Linked DNA regions of Homo sapiens. Each later gene encodes a partner of the first gene's protein in a complex. Each region holds a gene or a part of one and is shown on either strand. Other genes may lie near its edges.

Region 1 (8,392 bases):
CAGATCACCTGAGGTCAAGAGTTTGAGACCAGCCTGGCCAACATGGCAAAACCTCATCTCTACAAAAATACAAAAATTAGCTGGGTGTGATGGTGGGTGCCTGTAATCCCAGCTACTTGAGAGGCTGAAGCAGAAGAATCATTTGAACCCAGGAGATGGAGGTTGCAGTGAGCCAAGATCATGTCACTGCACTCCAGCCTGGGTGACAGAGTGAGACTCCATCCCAAAACAAACAAACAAACAAACAAACAAACAAACAAACACAAAACAAAAAACCCAGAATGCTGGTATAGCCAGACTGAGGCAAGTGAGGGGGACAGAGGGGTGAGGACAGAGAAGAGCAGCCACGTCGTGTTGGTTCTTATGGGTAAGGCATTTGGAGTTTATTTGGGAAGTCATGAGAGAGGTGTTTTTTTTTTTTTTTTGAGACGAGTCTTGCTCTGTCGCCCAGGCTGGAGTGCAATGGCGTGATCTCGGCTCACTGCAACCTCTGCCTCCTGGATTCAAGCGATTCTCCTGCCTCAGCCTCCCGAGTAGCTGGGATTACAGGCACCCGCCACCATGCCCAGCTAATTTTTGTATTTTTTTAAATAGAGACGGGGTTTTACCATATTGGCCAGGATGGTCTCGTACTCCTGACATTTGATCCGCCGGTCTCGGCCTCCCAAAGTGCTGGGATTATAGGCATGAGCCACCGCGCCTGGCTTAATTTTTGTATTTTTAGTAGAGACAGGTTTTGCCACGTTGGCCTGGCTGGTCTCAAACTCCTGACCTCAGGTGATCCACCTGCCTCAGCCTTCCAAAGTGCTAGGATTACAGGCGTGAGCCACCATGCCAGGCCATGAGAGAGGTTTTTTTTGTTTGTTTGTTTGAGACAGAGTCTTGCTCTGTTGTCCAGGCTGGAGTGCAGTGGCACCATCTCAGCTCACCGCAACCTCCGCCTCCCAGGTTTAAGTGATTCTCCTGCCTCAACCTTCCGAGTAGCTGGGATTACAGGCATGTGCCACCACACCCGGCTAATTTTTTTGTATTTTTTTAGTAGAGATGGGGGGTTCATCATATTGGCCAGGCTGGTCTCGAACTCCTGACCTTGTGATCTGCCCACCTTGGCCTCCCAAAGTGCTGGGATTACAGGCATGAGCCACTGCGCCCGGCCAAGAGAGTTTTAAAACAGAAGAGTGAATGGTTTATGGGTGGGCAAGAGTGAAATCCAGGGCCAGGCACGGTGGCTCACGCCTGTAATCCCAACACTTTGGGAGGCTGAGATGGGTGGATCACCTGAGGTGAAGAGTTTTAGACCAGCCTGGCCAACATGGTAAAACCCTGTCTCTACTCAAATACAAAAATTAGTTGGGGCTGGGTGCGGTGGCTGACTCCTGTAATCCCAGCACTTTGGGAGGCTGAGGCAGGTGGATCACCTGAGGTCAGGAGTTCGAGACCAGCCTGGCCAACATGATGAAACCCCATCTCTATTAAAAATACAAAAAATTAGCTGGGCGTGGTGGCGGGCGCCTGTAATCCCAGCTACTCTGGAGTCTGAGGCAGGAGAATTACTTGAACCAAGGAGATGGAGGTTGCAGTGAGCCAGGATTGCACCACTGCACTCCAGTCCAGGCAACAGTGTAAGACTCCGTCTCAAAAAAAAAAAAAAAAAAAAAAGATTGGCTATAGTTTTCTCCCACCCATCCTAATCAGGTTCTGCCTCCATCGCTTCCTGAAAGTGCTCTTGTCAAGGTCACTAATGTCCTCTTGGGTCATTCTCCTTTTTTTTTTTTTTTTTTTTTTTTGAGACAGAGTCTCGCTCTGTCACCCAGCTGGAGTGCAGTGGCGCCATCTCAGCTCACTGCAAGCTCTGCCTCCCGGGATCACGCCATTCTCCTGCCTCAGCCTCTCCCGAGTAGCTGGGACTACAGGCGCCCGCCACCACGCCTGGCTAATTTTTTGTATTTTTAGTAGAGACGGGGTTTCACCATGGTCTCGATCTCCTGACCTCGTGATCCTCCTGCCTCGGCCTCCCAAAGTGCTGGGATTACAAGCATGAGCCACCGCGCCCAGCCCCTCTTGGGTCATTCTCTAAATTCGCCTCACTGCATCTCTTAGCAGCATGAGTCACTGTCTCCACCTCCCTGCGCTGGAGCACTCAGGCACTCAGGGCTCTGCTGGGCCTTCTCCTCCTCCATCAGCACTCTTTCTTTTTTTTCTTTTTTTTGAGACGGAGTTTCAAAAAATCAGACCCACCAAGGCATGTGGCAGTTGTGTTGCTCTTTGCTCGGTACCCGCTAGAGGTCTGTTGCCATTAATTTGAAATGAGACCAGTTAGTGTGACTGTGCATCTTTCCTGGCAAGTTAAATGACTATAGTTTCTCTGTTTGTAAAATGGGGATGATTATAATAGCACCTGCCTCACAGAGTTGTGAGAATTAAAATAATCAGTAATGAATTAAAGCACTTAAGGCCGGGTGCGGTGGCTCACGCCTATAATCCCAGCACTTTGGGGGGCCGAGGCAGGTGGATCGCCTGAGGTCAGGAATTCAAGACCGACCTGGCCAACATAGTGAAACCCTGTCTTTACTAAAAATACAAAAATTAGCCGGGCTTAGTGGCGGGCGCCTGTAATCCCAGCTACTTGGGAGGTTTGAGGCAGGAGAATTGCTTGAATCCAGGAGGCGAAGGTTGCAGTGAGCTGATCGCACCACTGCACTCCAGCCTGGGCAAGAGAGCAAGACTTAGTCTCAAAAAAAAATAATAAAATTAAAAAAAAGTACTTAAAACAGCACCTAGCATATAGTAAGTGTTCGGTAAACACTAGTAGTCACTGGTATCAGTTGTGTGCAAGCCAAGAATAGGAGGATGGTATGGTTGAGGTTTACCAGGAGAGAAAGACAAGGGTATCCTGAGAGTGTCTTCAAGAGTGTGCATGCCATGGTGGACTAGAATCTACAGTGGGTAAGGAACTGGACTGTAAATAAGTTTTTGATGAAGCTGAATAAATTGTCATGGTAGAAATAGCAGAGCAGGGTCAGGCCTGGTGGCTCACGCCTGTAATCCCGACACTTTGGGAGGCCGAGGCGGGTGGATCACCTAAGGTCAGGAGTTCGAGACCAGCCTGGCCAATATGGTGAAACCCCGTCTCTACTAAAAAAGATACAAAGTTAGCCAGGCATGGTCGTGATTATGATATTAATGATTATAATATTAAAACATTTTAAAAAATATATCTTGCAATACAGATAGTCAATTTGTTTTCTTTTTTTCTTTCTTTTTTTTTTTTTTTTTTTGAGACAGAGTCTCGCTCTGTGGCCCAGGCTGGAGAGCAGTGGTGTGATCTTGCCTCACTGCAACCTCTGTTTCCCGGTTCAAGCGATTCTCCTGCCTCAGCTTCCTGAGTAGCTGGGATTACAGGCACGCACCACCGCACCCGGCTAATTTTTGTATTTTTAGTAGAGATGGGGTTTCGCCAAGTTGGCCAGGCTGGTCTCAAACTCCCGACCTCAAGTGATCCACCCATTTCCGCCTCCTAAAGTGCTGGGATTACAGGCGTGAGCCACTGCTCCTGGCCAGTCAGTTTGTTTTCAAAAGATTTTTGTGGCTGGTGTGGTGGCTCATGCCTATAATCCCAGCACTTTGGGAGACCAAGGTGGGAGGAATGCTTGAGCCCAGGAGTTTGAGACCAGCCTTGGTAACACAGCCAGATCCTGTCTCTATCAAAAAAGTTGGGCCTATGGTCCCAGCTACTTGGGAGGCTGAGGTGGGAGGATCGCTTGAGCCTGCGAGGTTGAGGCTGCCATGACCTTTGATTGCACCATTGTACTCTAGCCTGGGCGACAGAGTGAGACTCTGTCTCAAAACAAACAACCAAAACCTTTTTGTGCTTTTTTTTTTTTTTTTCCTGCTAGTGTACCAGTTCTATCGCAACCTCTCTCATTAGGTATTTTCATTTTTAGTGTCTACAAGCTTAGCATTTGAAATAGATAACTTTTTTTTTTTGAGATGGAGTCTTGCTGTGTCCCCCAGGCTGGAGTGCAGTGGCGCGATCTCAGCTCACTGCAAGCTCCGCCTCCCGGGTTCACGCCATTCTCCTGCCTCAGCCTCTCGAGTAGCTGGGACTACACGCACCCACTGCCACCACGCCAGGCTAATTTTTTGTATTTTTAGTACAGTCGGGGTTTCACCATGTTAGCCAGGATGGTCTCGATCTCCTGACCTCGTGATCCGCCCGCCTTGGCCTCTCAAAGTGCTGGGATTACAGGCGTGAGCCACTGCACCCGGCCTTAAATAGATAAAATTTGTATAGGTCAGAAAATTGGGGAAGGGTGTATTTGGGTATTTCCATATACTTGTGTGTACTGAGTCTTCTTCCCAATATAGTTTCTCGGGTTTTCTCCTTTCTTTTCCACCTTTTCACAGAACTTTCTGCAAGTCTCATTTCCAGCTCCCCAGCGTCTTTCCTGAGTACTTGCCCTGCCCCGTGGGTCTTGCAGGAAGCCTTTACTCCTCGTCTTGCCCTCTCCAGGAGACACTTTGCATCCTCTGTACCCTTTATCTCTCAGGGTGGGGACGGGGAATGTCCTCATTCCCAAATGCTGTAGCCACACAATTGCTCTTTCGTCTTTGTGAAACTTTTCCCTTGAGGCTTATGCTGATTCTCTCTCCCGCTGACGACGTTGGCACTGTACAGCCTTCCGGTGCTCTCCTGTTCGCCCGCCATTTTGGTGACCTCAGGTATCCAAGCCAAAAGCCAGGGTCTCTCTCATCCTTTAATCTTTAATCTCCCTGTTCCTAACCCCTCACATCCAATTACTTCCCAAATCCCATCAAGTCTGCCTAATCTTCCTAATCCACCCACATCTGTCCCTCCCACTGCCTCTACTTTAATTCAAGGTCCTATTATTTTGGGCCTTATGTTGCTGAAACAGTCTCCTGCCTCCTTTTGCTCATTAAAACCGTATTTGTTGACTCTGCTTATTCTGCACCACGTGTTGGGGAAGCAGTGGTGAGAGCGAGGCAGATGTGATTCCCTCCTTCTCTGATAGGTATGACGGAAGGGGAGTGAGGAGCACCAGGGGCTATAGGAAAGAGGAACAGGGGCGCCTTGCTTAGCTGGAGGGGTTAGGGAAGCGTTCCCAGAGGAAGAAGCATCTAAGAGACCTGAAGGATGACTAGGATTCAGCCAGGAGGAGTCGTTGGGGGAGATGAAGGAAGAATATTCCAGACTTGGAGCCTAGGACATGTGAAAGCCAGTGGGTTGAAAGTGTGGCGAGTTGGCACTTTATGGGACCTGAGAGTCAAAATGGCGGGACTCAGAGATTTTTTTTTTTTTTTTTTTTTTTTTTGAAATGGAGTCTTGCTCTGTCGCCCAGGCTGGAGTGCAGTGGCGCGATCTGGGTTCACTGCAAGCTCCGCCTCCCAGGTTCACGCCATTCTCCTGCCTCAGCCTCCCGAGTAGCTGGGACTACAGGCGCCCGCCACCACGCCTGGCTAATTTTTTGTGTTTTTAGTAGACACGGGGTTTCACCACGTTAGCCAGGATGGTCTCGATCTCCTGACCTTGTGATCCGCCCGCCTTGGCCTCCCAAAGTGCTGGGATTACTGGCGTGAGCCACTGCGCCCGGTCAGGACTCAGAGATTTTTATGGGAATTAGCAGATAGAGATAAGCCTTGAGAGGTGGGTCGGGGGTAGCACGTGGTAATGGAAGACTAGGAGGAGGAACTGGCAAGATTTGGTATTGGGTTGGACCAGGAGTGGAAAGGAAGTGAAGAGTGGTAGCAGTCAAGGCTGGTGCTCAGATTTCAGGATTGAGCACTGGTGTGGAGTCCAGGAGGAACAGCAGGTTTGATGGTGGTGGATGCCGGGCCTATTATGGACAAATTGAGTTTGAGGAACCTGTGGGATGATCAAGTGGCACTGTCCACCAGGCAGTTGGATATATGGGTTCAGAGTATAGAGGTGGACACTGAAGTCCTGGCTGGTTGACATCAGCCTGAGGCCCAGAAGACAACTGACGAAGGACAGTGTCCAGACTATTTATCTCTCACAAATCAGTAAGAAAAAGACGGCTGGGCATGGTGGCTCATGCCTGTAATCCCAGCACTTTGGGAAGCCGAGGCAGGTGGATCACCCGAGGTCAGGAGTTCAAGACCAGCCTGACCAACATGGCAAAATCCCGTCTCTACTAAAAATACAAAAATTAGCCGGGTGTGGTGGCAGGCGCCTGTAATCCCAGCTACTCAGGAGGCTGAGGCAGGAGAATTGCTTGAACCTGGGAGGTGGAGGTAGTAGTGAGCCGAGATCGTGCCACTGCACTCCAGCCTGGGGACAGAGGGAGACTCTGCCTCCAAAAAAAAAAAAAGAAAAGAAAAAGAAAAAAGAGAAGAAAAGAAAAAGACAACAACTGGTCAGGCATGGTGGCTCACACCTGTAATCCCCACTTTGGGAGGCCGAGGTAGGCAGATCACTTGAGGCTGGGAGTTTGAGACCAGCCTGGCCAACATGGTGAAACCCCATCTCTACTAAAAAGTATAAAAATTAGCCGGGCGTGGTGGCAAATGCCTGTGGTCCCGGCTCCTTGGGAGGCTGAGGCATGAGAGTCGCTTGAACCCAGGAGGCAGAGGTTGTAGTGAGCCAAGATCGTGCCACTGCACCCCAGCTTGGGGAACAGAGAAAGACTCTGTCTCAAAAAGAAAAAAAAAGAAAAAGAAAATGGGCAAAATTTATGAAAAGGTGTACCTAACTAAATGGCCAGTAAACATAGAGGAAATATCTAATCTCTCTTATAGTAATGATGGAAATACAAATTTATGCTGTAATGAAATACCATTTCACCACCTTCAAATTGAGAAAAATGTAAAAGTCTGGCAATACCAAGAAGATAAAGAACAATAGACACTTTTTTTTTTTTTTGGAGACAGGATCTTGTTCTGTTGCCCAGGCTGGAGTGCAGTGGTGCGAACATGGCACACTGTAGCCTCAAACTCCTGGGGTCAAGCAGTCCTCCTGCCTCACTCTCCCAAACAGGTGGGACTACAAGTATGCCAATATGCCTGACTAATTTTTTAATTTTTTGTAAAACTGGGGTCTTGCTATATTGCCCAGGCTAGAATAGAGACTCTTATACACTGCTGGTGGGAGAGGACATTGGGACAAGTGCTTTGGGAAAGAAATTGACATTATAGTATCTTACAAAGTTTGCAAAGTGCATAGCGTAGAGACCAGTAATTTTACTCTTCAGCAGAAACTGTAGAGAAACCCTTCTACATGTGTACAGAATGTTAAAGCACACTAGCCAAAAAACAGAAAAACATCAGTGATTCTAAATAGAAGAAGGGTAGATCAGTTTGAATATATTCATGAGTAGAGTACTATACACCAGTGAAAATGCATGAATTAGAGCAAAATGTGTTTCCATGGTTAAAGCTTGCTATCACAGAGGGATGTATATGATATAATACCATTACTGTTAAGTCTAGGCCGGGCATGGTGGCTCATGCTTGTAATCCCAGTGCATTGAAAGGCTGAGGTGGCTGGATTGCTTGAGGCCAGGAGTTTTAGACCAGCGTGAGCAACACAGACCCCTGTTTCTACAAAAAAATAATTTTAAAGATTAGCCGGGCAGGCTGGGCGTGGTGTCTCATGCCTGTAATCCCAGCACTTGGGAGACTGAGGTGGGTGGATCACGAGGTCAGGAGTTCAAGACCAGCCTGGCCAAGATGGTGAAACCCCGTCTCTACTAAAAATACAAAAAAATTAGCCGGGCGTGATAGCAGGCGCCTGTAATCGTAGCTACTCAGGAGGCTGAGGCAGAGAATTGCTTGAGTCTGGGAGGCAGAGGTTGCAGTGAGCCAAGATTGTGCCACTGCATTCCAGCCTGGGCGACAGAGCGAGACTCCGTCAAAAATAAATAAATAAATAAATAAATAAATAAATAAGCCAGGTATGGTGGCTTATGCTTATATTCCCAGTTACTAGGGAGGCTGAGGCCAGGGGATTGTTTGCTTGAGCCCAGGAGTTTGAGGTTTCAGTGAGATGATTGCGCCACTGTGCTCCAGCCTAGGCAACAGAGTAAGACCCTGTCTCTAAGAAAAGAAAAAATTAAGTCTAAAGACCTGCAAGACAACGTTAGATACTGTTTTTTTTCCCATATGAATATACTCCTAGGCTGGGCGCAGTGGCTCACACCTGTAATCCCAGCACTTTGGGAGGCTGAGGCAGAAAGATCACTTGAGGCCAAGAGTTCGAGACCAGCCTGGCCAACGTGGCGAAACCCTGTCTATACTAAAAATACAAAAAATTAGCTGAGCATGGAGGTGAACTCCTGCAATCCCAGCTACTCGGGAGGCTGAGACACAAGAATTGCTTGAACCTGGGAGGTGGAGGTTGCAGTGAACTGAGATC
Region 2 (8,392 bases), on another chromosome or scaffold:
CTTGGCGAAATCTGAGCTGGGCCATGCCAGGCTGCGACAGCTGCTGCATTCAGGCACCTGCTCACGTTTGACTGCGCGGCCTCTCTCCAGTTCCGCAGTGCCTTTGTTCATGATTTGCTAAATGTCTTCTCTGCCAGTTTTGATCTTGAGGCCAAAGGAAAGGTGTCCCCCTCCTTTAGGAGGGCAGGCCATGTTTGAGCCGTGTCCTGCCCAGCTGGCCCCTCAGTGCTGGGTCTGAGGCCAAAGGAAACGTGTCCCCCTTCTTAGGAGGACGGGCCGTGTTTGAGCCACGCCCCGCTGAGCGGGCCTCTCAGTGCTGGGTCTGTCCACGTGGCCCTGTGGCCCTTTGCAGATGTGGTCTGTCCACGTGGCCCTGTGGCTCTTTGCAGATGCCTGTTAGCACTTGCTCGGCTCTAGGGGACAGTCGTGTCCACCGCATGAGGCTCAGAGACCTCTGGGCGAATTTCCTTGGCTCCCAGGGTGGGGGTGGAGGTGGCCTGGGCTGCTGGGACCCAGACCCTGTGCCCGGCAGCTGGGCAGCAACTCCTGGATCACATATGCCATCCGGGCCACGGTGGGCTGTGTGGGTGTGAGCCCAGCTGGACCCACAGGTGGCCCAGAGGAGACATTCTGTGTCACACACTCTGCCTAAGCCCATGTGTGTCTGCAGAGACTCGGCCCGGCCAGCCCACGATGGCCCTGCATTCCAGCCCAGCCCCGCACTTCATCACAAACACTGACCCCAAAAGGGACGGAGGGTCTTGGCCACGTGGTCCTGCCTGTCTCAGCACCCACCGGCTCACTCCCATGTGTCTCCCGTCTGCTTTCGCAGAGCTCCTCCCTGAATGAGGCCAGCAGTGGCCTCTTCGACGTCTTCCTACGCTTCATGTGCCACCACGCCGTGCGCATCAGGGGCAAGTGAGTCAGGTGGCCAGGTGCCATTGCCCTGCGGGTGGCTGGGCGGGCTGGCAGGGCTTCTGCTCACCTCTCTCCTGCCCCTTCCCCACTGCCCTTCTGCCCGGGGCCACCAGAGTCTCCTTTTCTGGCCCCCGCCCCCTCCGGCTCCTGGGCTGCAGGCTCCCGAGGCCCCGGAAACATGGCTCGGCTTGCGGCAGCCGGAGCGGAGCAGGTGCCACACGAGGCCTGGAAATGGCAAGCGGGGTGTGGAGTTGCTCCTGCGTGGAGGACGAGGGGCGGGGGGTGTGTCTGGGTCAGGTGTGCGCCGAGCGTTTGAGCCTGCAGCTTGTCAGCTCCAAGTTACTACTGACGCTGGACACCCGGCTCTCACACGCTTGTATCTCTCTCTCCCGATACAAAAGGATTTTATCCGATTCTCATTCCTGTCCCTGTCGTGTGACCCCCGCGAGGGCGCGGGCTCTTCTCTCTGTGACTAGATTTCCCATCTGGAAAGTGCGGGGTTGACCGTGTAGTTTGCTCCTCTCGGGGGGCCTGTGGTGGCCATGGGGCAGGCGGCCTGGGAGAGCTGCCGTCACACAGCCACTGGGTGAGCCACACTCACGGTGGTAGAGCCACAGTGCCTGGTGCCACATCACGTCCTCTGGATTTTAAGTAAAACCACACACCTCCCGGCAGGCATCTGCCTGCGACCCTGTGTGTGCCTGGGGAGAGTGGTAGCACGGAGGAAATTCGTGCACACTCAAGGTCATCAGCAAGGTCATCCGCAGTCAGGTGGAACGTGGAGGCCTCTCTCTGGGATCGTCTCCAGCGGATAAAGGACTGTGCACAGCTTCGGAAGCTTTTATTTAAAAATATAACTATTAATTATTGCATTATAAGTAATCACTAATGGTATCAGCAATTATAATATTTATTAAAGTATAATTAGAAATATTAAGTAGTACACACGTTCTGGAAAAACACAAATTGCACATGGCAGCAGAGTGAATTTTGGCCGAGGGACACGTGTGCACATGTGTGTAAGCGGCCCCCAGGCCCACAGAATTCGCTGACAAAGTCACCTCCCCAGAGAAGCCACCACGGGCCTCCTTCGTGGTCGTGAATTTTATTAAGATGGATCAAGTCACGTACCGTCCACGTGTGGCAGGGCTTTGGGGAATGTGAGGTGATGACTGCGTCCTCATGCCCTGACAGACAGGAGGTGACTGTGTCTGTCCTGTCCCTAGGACACGGACAGGCCCGAAGCTCTAGTCCCCATCGTGGTCCAGTTTGGCCTCTGAATAAAAACGTCTTCAAAACCTGTTGCCCCAAAAACTAAGAACAGAGAGAGTTTCCCATCCCATGTGCTCACAGGGGCGTATCTGCTTGCGTTGACTCGCTGGGCTGGCCGGACTCCTAGAGTTGGTGCGTGTGCTTCTGTGCAAAAAGTGCAGTCCTCTTGCCCATCACTGTGATATCTGCACCAGCAAGGAAAGCCTCTTTTCTTTTCTTTCTTTTTTTTTTTTTGAGACGGAACGTCACTGTTGTCTGCCTGGGCTTGAGTGCAGTGGCGCGATCTCAACTCACTGCAACCTCCGCCTCCCGGGTTCCAGCATTTCTCCTGCCTCAGCCTCCCGAGCAGCTGAGATTACAGGCACCCACCCCCTGCGCCTGGCTAATTTTTGTATTTTTAGTAGAGAGGGGTTTTTGCCATGTTGGCCAGGCTGGTCTCGAACTCCTGACCTCAGGTGATCCACCCACCTCGGCCTCCCAAAGTGCTGGGATTACAGGTGTGAGCCATCACGCCCAGCCGGAAAGCCTCTTTTTAAGGTGACCACCTATAGCGCTTCCCGAAAATAACAGGTCTTGTTTTTGCAGTAGGCTGCAAGCGTCTCTTAGCAACAGGAGTGGCGTCCTGTGGGCTCTGGGGATGGCTGAGGGTCGCGTGGCAGCCATGCCTTCTGTGTGCACCTTTAGGTTCCACGGGGCTATTCTGCTCTCACTGTTTGTCTGAAAACGCACCCTTGGCATCCTTGTTTGGAGAGTTTCTGCTTCTCGTTGGTCATGCTGAAACTAGGGGCAAGGTTGTATCCGTTGGCGCGCAGCGGCTACATGTAGGGTCATGAGTCTTTCACCGTGGACAAATTCCTTGAAAAAAAAAAAAGGAGTCCGGTTAAGCATTCATTCCGGGTCAAGTGTCTGGTTCTGTGAATAAACTCTAAGATTTAAGAAACCTTAATGAAAGAAAACCTTGATGATTCAGAGCAAGGATGTGGTCACACCTGTGGCTGGATCTGTTTCAGCCGCCCCAGTGCATGGTGAGAGTGGGGAGCAGGGATTGTTTGTTCAGAGGTCTCATCTGGTATGTTTCTGAGGTGTTTGCCGGCTGAATGGTAGACGTGTCGTTTGTGTGTATGAGGTTCTGTGTCTGTGTGTGGCTCGGTTTGAGTGTACGCATGTCCAGCACATGCCCTGCCCGTCTCTCACCTGTGTCTTCCCGCCCCAGGTCCTACGTCCAGTGCCAGGGGATCCCGCAGGGCTCCATCCTCTCCACGCTGCTCTGCAGCCTGTGCTACGGCGACATGGAGAACAAGCTGTTTGCGGGGATTCGGCGGGACGGGTGAGGCCTCCTCTTCCCCAGGGGGGCTTGGGTGGGGGTTGATTTGCTTTTGATGCATTCAGTGTTAATATTCCTGGTGCTCTGGAGACCATGACTGCTCTGTCTTGAGGAACCAGACAAGGTTGCAGCCCCTTCTTGGTATGAAGCCGCACGGGAGGGGTTGCACAGCCTGAGGACTGCGGGCTCCACGCAGGCTCTGTCCAGCGGCCATGTCCAGAGGCCTCAGGGCTCAGCAGGCGGGAGGGCCGCTGCCCTGCATGATGAGCATGTGAATTCAACACCGAGGAAGCACACCAGCTTCTGTCACGTCACCCAGGTTCCGTTAGGGTCCTTGGGGAGATGGGGCTGGTGCAGCCTGAGGCCCCACATCTCCCAGCAGGCCCTCGACAGGTGGCCTGGACTGGGCGCCTCTTCAGCCCATTGCCCATCCCACTTGCATGGGGTCTACACCCAAGGACGCACACACCTAAATATCGTGCCAACCTAATGTGGTTCAACTCAGCTGGCTTTTATTGACAGCAGTTACTTTTTTTTTTTTAATACTTTAAGTTCTAGGGTACATGTGCACGACGTGCAGGTTAGTTACATATGTATACATGTGCCATGTTGGTGTGCTGCACCCATTAACTCATCATTTACATTAGGTATATCTCCTAATGCTATCCCTCCCCACTCCCCCCATCCCATGACAGGCCCTGGTGTGTGATGTTCCCCACCCTGTGTCCAAGTGTTCTCATTGTTCAGTTCCCACCTGTGAGTGAGAACATGTGGTGTTTGGTTTTCTTTCCTTGCAATAGTTTGCTCAGAGTGATGGTTTCCAGCTTCGTCCATGTCCCTACAAAGGACATGAACTCATCCTTTTTTATGACTGCATAGTATTCCGTGGTGTATATGTGCCACATTTTCTTAATCCAGTCTATCATCGATGGACATTTGGGTTGGTTGCAAGTCTTTGCTACTGTGAATAGTGCCGCAATAAACATACGTGTGCATGTGTCTTTATAGCAGCATGATTTATAATCCTTTGGGTATATACCCAGTAATGGGATGGCTGGGTCAAATGGTATTTCTAGTTCTAGATCCTTGAGGAATCACCACACTGTCTTCCACAATGGTTGAACTAGTTTACACTCCCACCAACAGTGTAAAAGTGTTCTGGTGCTGGAGAGGATGTGGACAGCAGTTATTTTTTTATGAAAATAGTATCACTGAACAAGCAGACAGTTAGTGAAGGATGCGTCAGGAAGCCTGCAGGCCACACAGCCATTTCTCTCGAAGACTCCGGGTTTTTCCTGTGCATCTTTTGAAACTCTAGCTCCAATTATAGCATGTACAGTGGATCAAGGTTCTTCTTCATTAAGGTTCAAGTTCTAGATTGAAATAAGTTTATGTAACAGAAACAAAAATTTCTTGTACACACAACTTGCTCTGGGATTTGGAGGAAAGTGTCCTCGAGCTGGCGGCACACTGGTCAGCCCTCTGGGACAGGATACCTCTGGCCCATGGTCATGGGGCGCTGGGCTTGGGCCTGAGGGTCACACAGTGCACCATGCCCAGCTTCCTGTGGATAGGATCTGGGTCTCGGATCATGCTGAGGACCACAGCTGCCATGCTGGTAAAGGGCACCACGTGGCTCAGAGGGGGCGAGGTTCCCAGCCCCAGCTTTCTTACCGTCTTCAGTTATTTTTCCCTAAGAGTCTGAGAAGTGGGGCCGCGCCTGATGGCCTTCGTTCGTCTTCAGCTGGCACAGAATTGCACAAGCTGATGGTAAACACTGAGTACTTATAATGAATGAGGAATTGCTGTAGCAGTTAACTGTAGAGAGCTCGTCTGTTGGAAAGAAATTTAAGTTTTTCATTTAACCGCTTTGGAGAATGTTACTTTATTTATGGCTGTGTAAATTGTTTGACATTCAGTCCCTCGTAGACAGATACTACGTAAAAAGTGTAAAGTTAACCTTGCTGTGTATTTTCCCTTATTTTAGGCTGCTCCTGCGTTTGGTGGATGATTTCTTGTTGGTGACACCTCACCTCACCCACGCGAAAACCTTCCTCAGGTGAGGCCCGTGCCGTGTGTCTGTGGGGACCTCCACAGCCTGTGGGCTTTGCAGTTGAGCCCCCCGTGTCCTGCCCCTGGCACCGCAGCGTTGTCTCTGCCAAGTCCTCTCTCTCTGCCGGTGCTGGATCCGCAAGAGCAGAGGCGCTTGGCCGTGCACCCAGGCCTGGGGGCGCAGGGGCACCTTCGGGAGGGAGTGGGTACCGTGCAGGCCCTGGTCCTGCAGAGACGCACCCAGGTTACACACGTGGTGAGTGCAGGCGGTGACCTGGCTCCTGCTGCTCTTTGGAAAGTCAAGAGTGGCGGCTCCTGGGGCCCCAGTGAGACCCCCAGGAGCTGTGCACAGGGCCTGCAGGGCCGAGGCGGCAGCCTCCTCCCCAGGGTGCACCTGAGCCTGCGGAGAGCAGGAGCTGCTGAGTGAGCTGGCCCACAGCGTTCGCTGCGGTCACGTTCCTGCGTGGGGTTGTTTGGGATCGGTGGGAGAATTTGGATTTGCTGAGTGCTGCTGTCTTGAACCACGGAGATGGCTAGGAGTGGGTTTCAGAGTTGATTTTTGTGAATCAAACTAAAATCAGGCACAGGGGACCTGGCCTCAGCACAGGGGATTGTCCAATGTGGTCCCCCTCAAGGGCGCCCCACAGAGCCGGTGGGCTTGTTTTAAAGTGCGATTTGACGAGGGACGAGAAACCTTGAAAGCTGTAAAGGGAACCCTCAGAAAATGTGGCCGCCAGGGGTGGTTTCAGGTGCTTTGCTGGGCTGTGTTTGTGAAAACCCATTTGGACCCGCCCTCCAAGTCCACCCTCCAGGTCCACCCTCCAGGGCCGCCCTGGGCTGGGGGTATGCCTGGCGTTCCTTGTGCCGCAGCCCGGAGCACAGCAGGCTGTGCACATTTAAATCCACTAAGATTCACTCGGGGGGAGCCCAGGTCCCAAGCAACTGAGGGCTCAGGAGTCCTGAGGCTGCTGAGGGGACAGAGCAGACGGGGAACGCTGCTTCTGTGTGGCAAGTTCCTGAGGGTGCTGGCCAGGGAGGTGGCTCAGAGTGTATGTTGGGGTCCCACCGGGGGCAGAACTCTGTCTCTGATGAGTCGGCAGCCATGTAACAGGAAGGGGTGGCCACAGGGAGCTGGGAATGCACCAGGGGAGCTGCGCAGCTGGCCGAGGTCCCAGGGCCAGGCCACAGGAAGGGCAGGGGGACGCCCGGGGCCACAGCAGAGGCCGCAGGAAGGGAAGGGGATGCCCAGGCCAGAGCAGAGGCTACCGGGCACAGGGGGGCTCCCTGAGCTGGGTGAGCGAGGCTCATGACTCGGCGAGGGAACCTCCTTGACGTGAAGCTGACGACTGGTGTTGCCCAGCTCACAGCCCAGCCAGGTCCCGCGCCTGAGCAGGAACTCAGAACCCTCCCCTTTGTCTAAAGCACAGCAGATGCCTTCAGGGCATCTAGGAGAAAACAGGCAAAGTCGTTGAGAAACGTCTTAAAAGAAGGTGGGATGGTGGCAATTTCTTGTCCAGATTTTAGTCTGCCCCGGACCACAGATGAGTCTATAACGGGATTGTGGTGTTGCCATGGGGACACATGAGATGGACCATCACAGAGGCCACTGGGGCTGCACCTCCCATCTGAGTCCTGGCTGTCCCGGGTCCAGGCCAGGTTCTTGCATGCTCACCTACCTGTCCTGCCCGGGAGACAGGGAAAGCACCCCGAAGTCTGGAGCAGGGCTGGGTCCAGGCTCCTCAGAGCTCCTGCCAGGCCCAGCACCCTGCTCCAAATCACCACTTCTCTGGGGTTTTCCAAAGCATTTAACAAGGGTGTCAGGTTACCTCCTGGGTGACGGCCCCGCATCCTGGGGCTGACATTGCCCCTCTGCCTTAGGACCCTGGTCCGAGGTGTCCCTGAGTATGGCTGCGTGGTGAACTTGCGGAAGACAGTGGTGAACTTCCCTGTAGAAGACGAGGCCCTGGGTGGCACGGCTTTTGTTCAGATGCCGGCCCACGGCCTATTCCCCTGGTGCGGCCTGCTGCTGGATACCCGGACCCTGGAGGTGCAGAGCGACTACTCCAGGTGAGCGCACCTGGCCGGAAGTGGAGCCTGTGCCCGGCTGGGGCAGGTGCTGCTGCAGGGCCGTTGCGTCCACCTCTGCTTCCGTGTGGGGCAGGCGACTGCCAATCCCAAAGGGTCAGAGGCCACAGGGTGCCCCTCGTCCCATCTGGGGCTGAGCAGAAATGCATCTTTCTGTGGGAGTGAGGGTGCTCACAACGGGAGCAGTTTTCTGTGCTATTTTGGTAAAAGGAAATGGTGCACCAGACCTGGGTGCACTGAGGTGTCTTCAGAAAGCAGTCTGGATCCGAACCCAAGACGCCCGGGCCCTGCTGGGCGTGAGTCTCTCCAAACCCGAAACACAGGGGCCCTGCTGGGCATGAGTCCCTCTGAACCCGAGACCCTGGGGCCCTGCTGGGCGTGAGTCTCTCCGAACCCAGAGACTTCAGGGCCCTTTTGGGCGTGAGTCTCTCCGCTGTGAGCCCCACACTCCAAGGCTCATCCACAGTCTACAGGATGCCATGAGTTCATGATCACGTGTGACCCATCAGGGGACAGGGCCATGGTGTGGGGGGGGTCTCTACAAAATTCTGGGGTCTTGTTTCCCCAGAGCCCGAGAGCTCAAGGCCCCGTCTCAGGCTCAGACACAAATGAATTGAAGATGGACACAGATGCAGAAATCTGTGCTGTTTCTTTTATGAATAAAAAGTATCAACATTCCAGGCAGGGCAAGGTGGCTCACACCTATAATCCCAGCACTTTGGGAGGCCGAGGTGGGTGGAT

The links.
Region 2: WRAP53 (region 1) and TERT share a complex: the UniProt entries of both Homo sapiens proteins name them as parts of the telomerase holoenzyme complex.

The regions. Positions count from the first base shown.
Region 1 is NC_000017.11:7,690,984-7,699,375, forward strand, and holds part of WRAP53 (telomerase Cajal body protein 1), read left to right. Parts: intron 1-8,392. UniProt on the Homo sapiens protein: RNA chaperone that plays a key role in telomere maintenance and RNA localization to Cajal bodies. Specifically recognizes and binds the Cajal body box (CAB box) present in both small Cajal body RNAs (scaRNAs) and telomerase RNA template component (TERC).
Region 2 is NC_000005.10:1,263,645-1,272,036, reverse strand, and holds part of TERT (telomerase reverse transcriptase), read left to right. Parts: intron 1-832; coding exon 833-918; intron 919-3,403; coding exon 3,404-3,517; intron 3,518-5,501; coding exon 5,502-5,573; intron 5,574-7,444; coding exon 7,445-7,633; intron 7,634-8,392. UniProt on the Homo sapiens protein: Telomerase is a ribonucleoprotein enzyme essential for the replication of chromosome termini in most eukaryotes. Active in progenitor and cancer cells. Inactive, or very low activity, in normal somatic cells.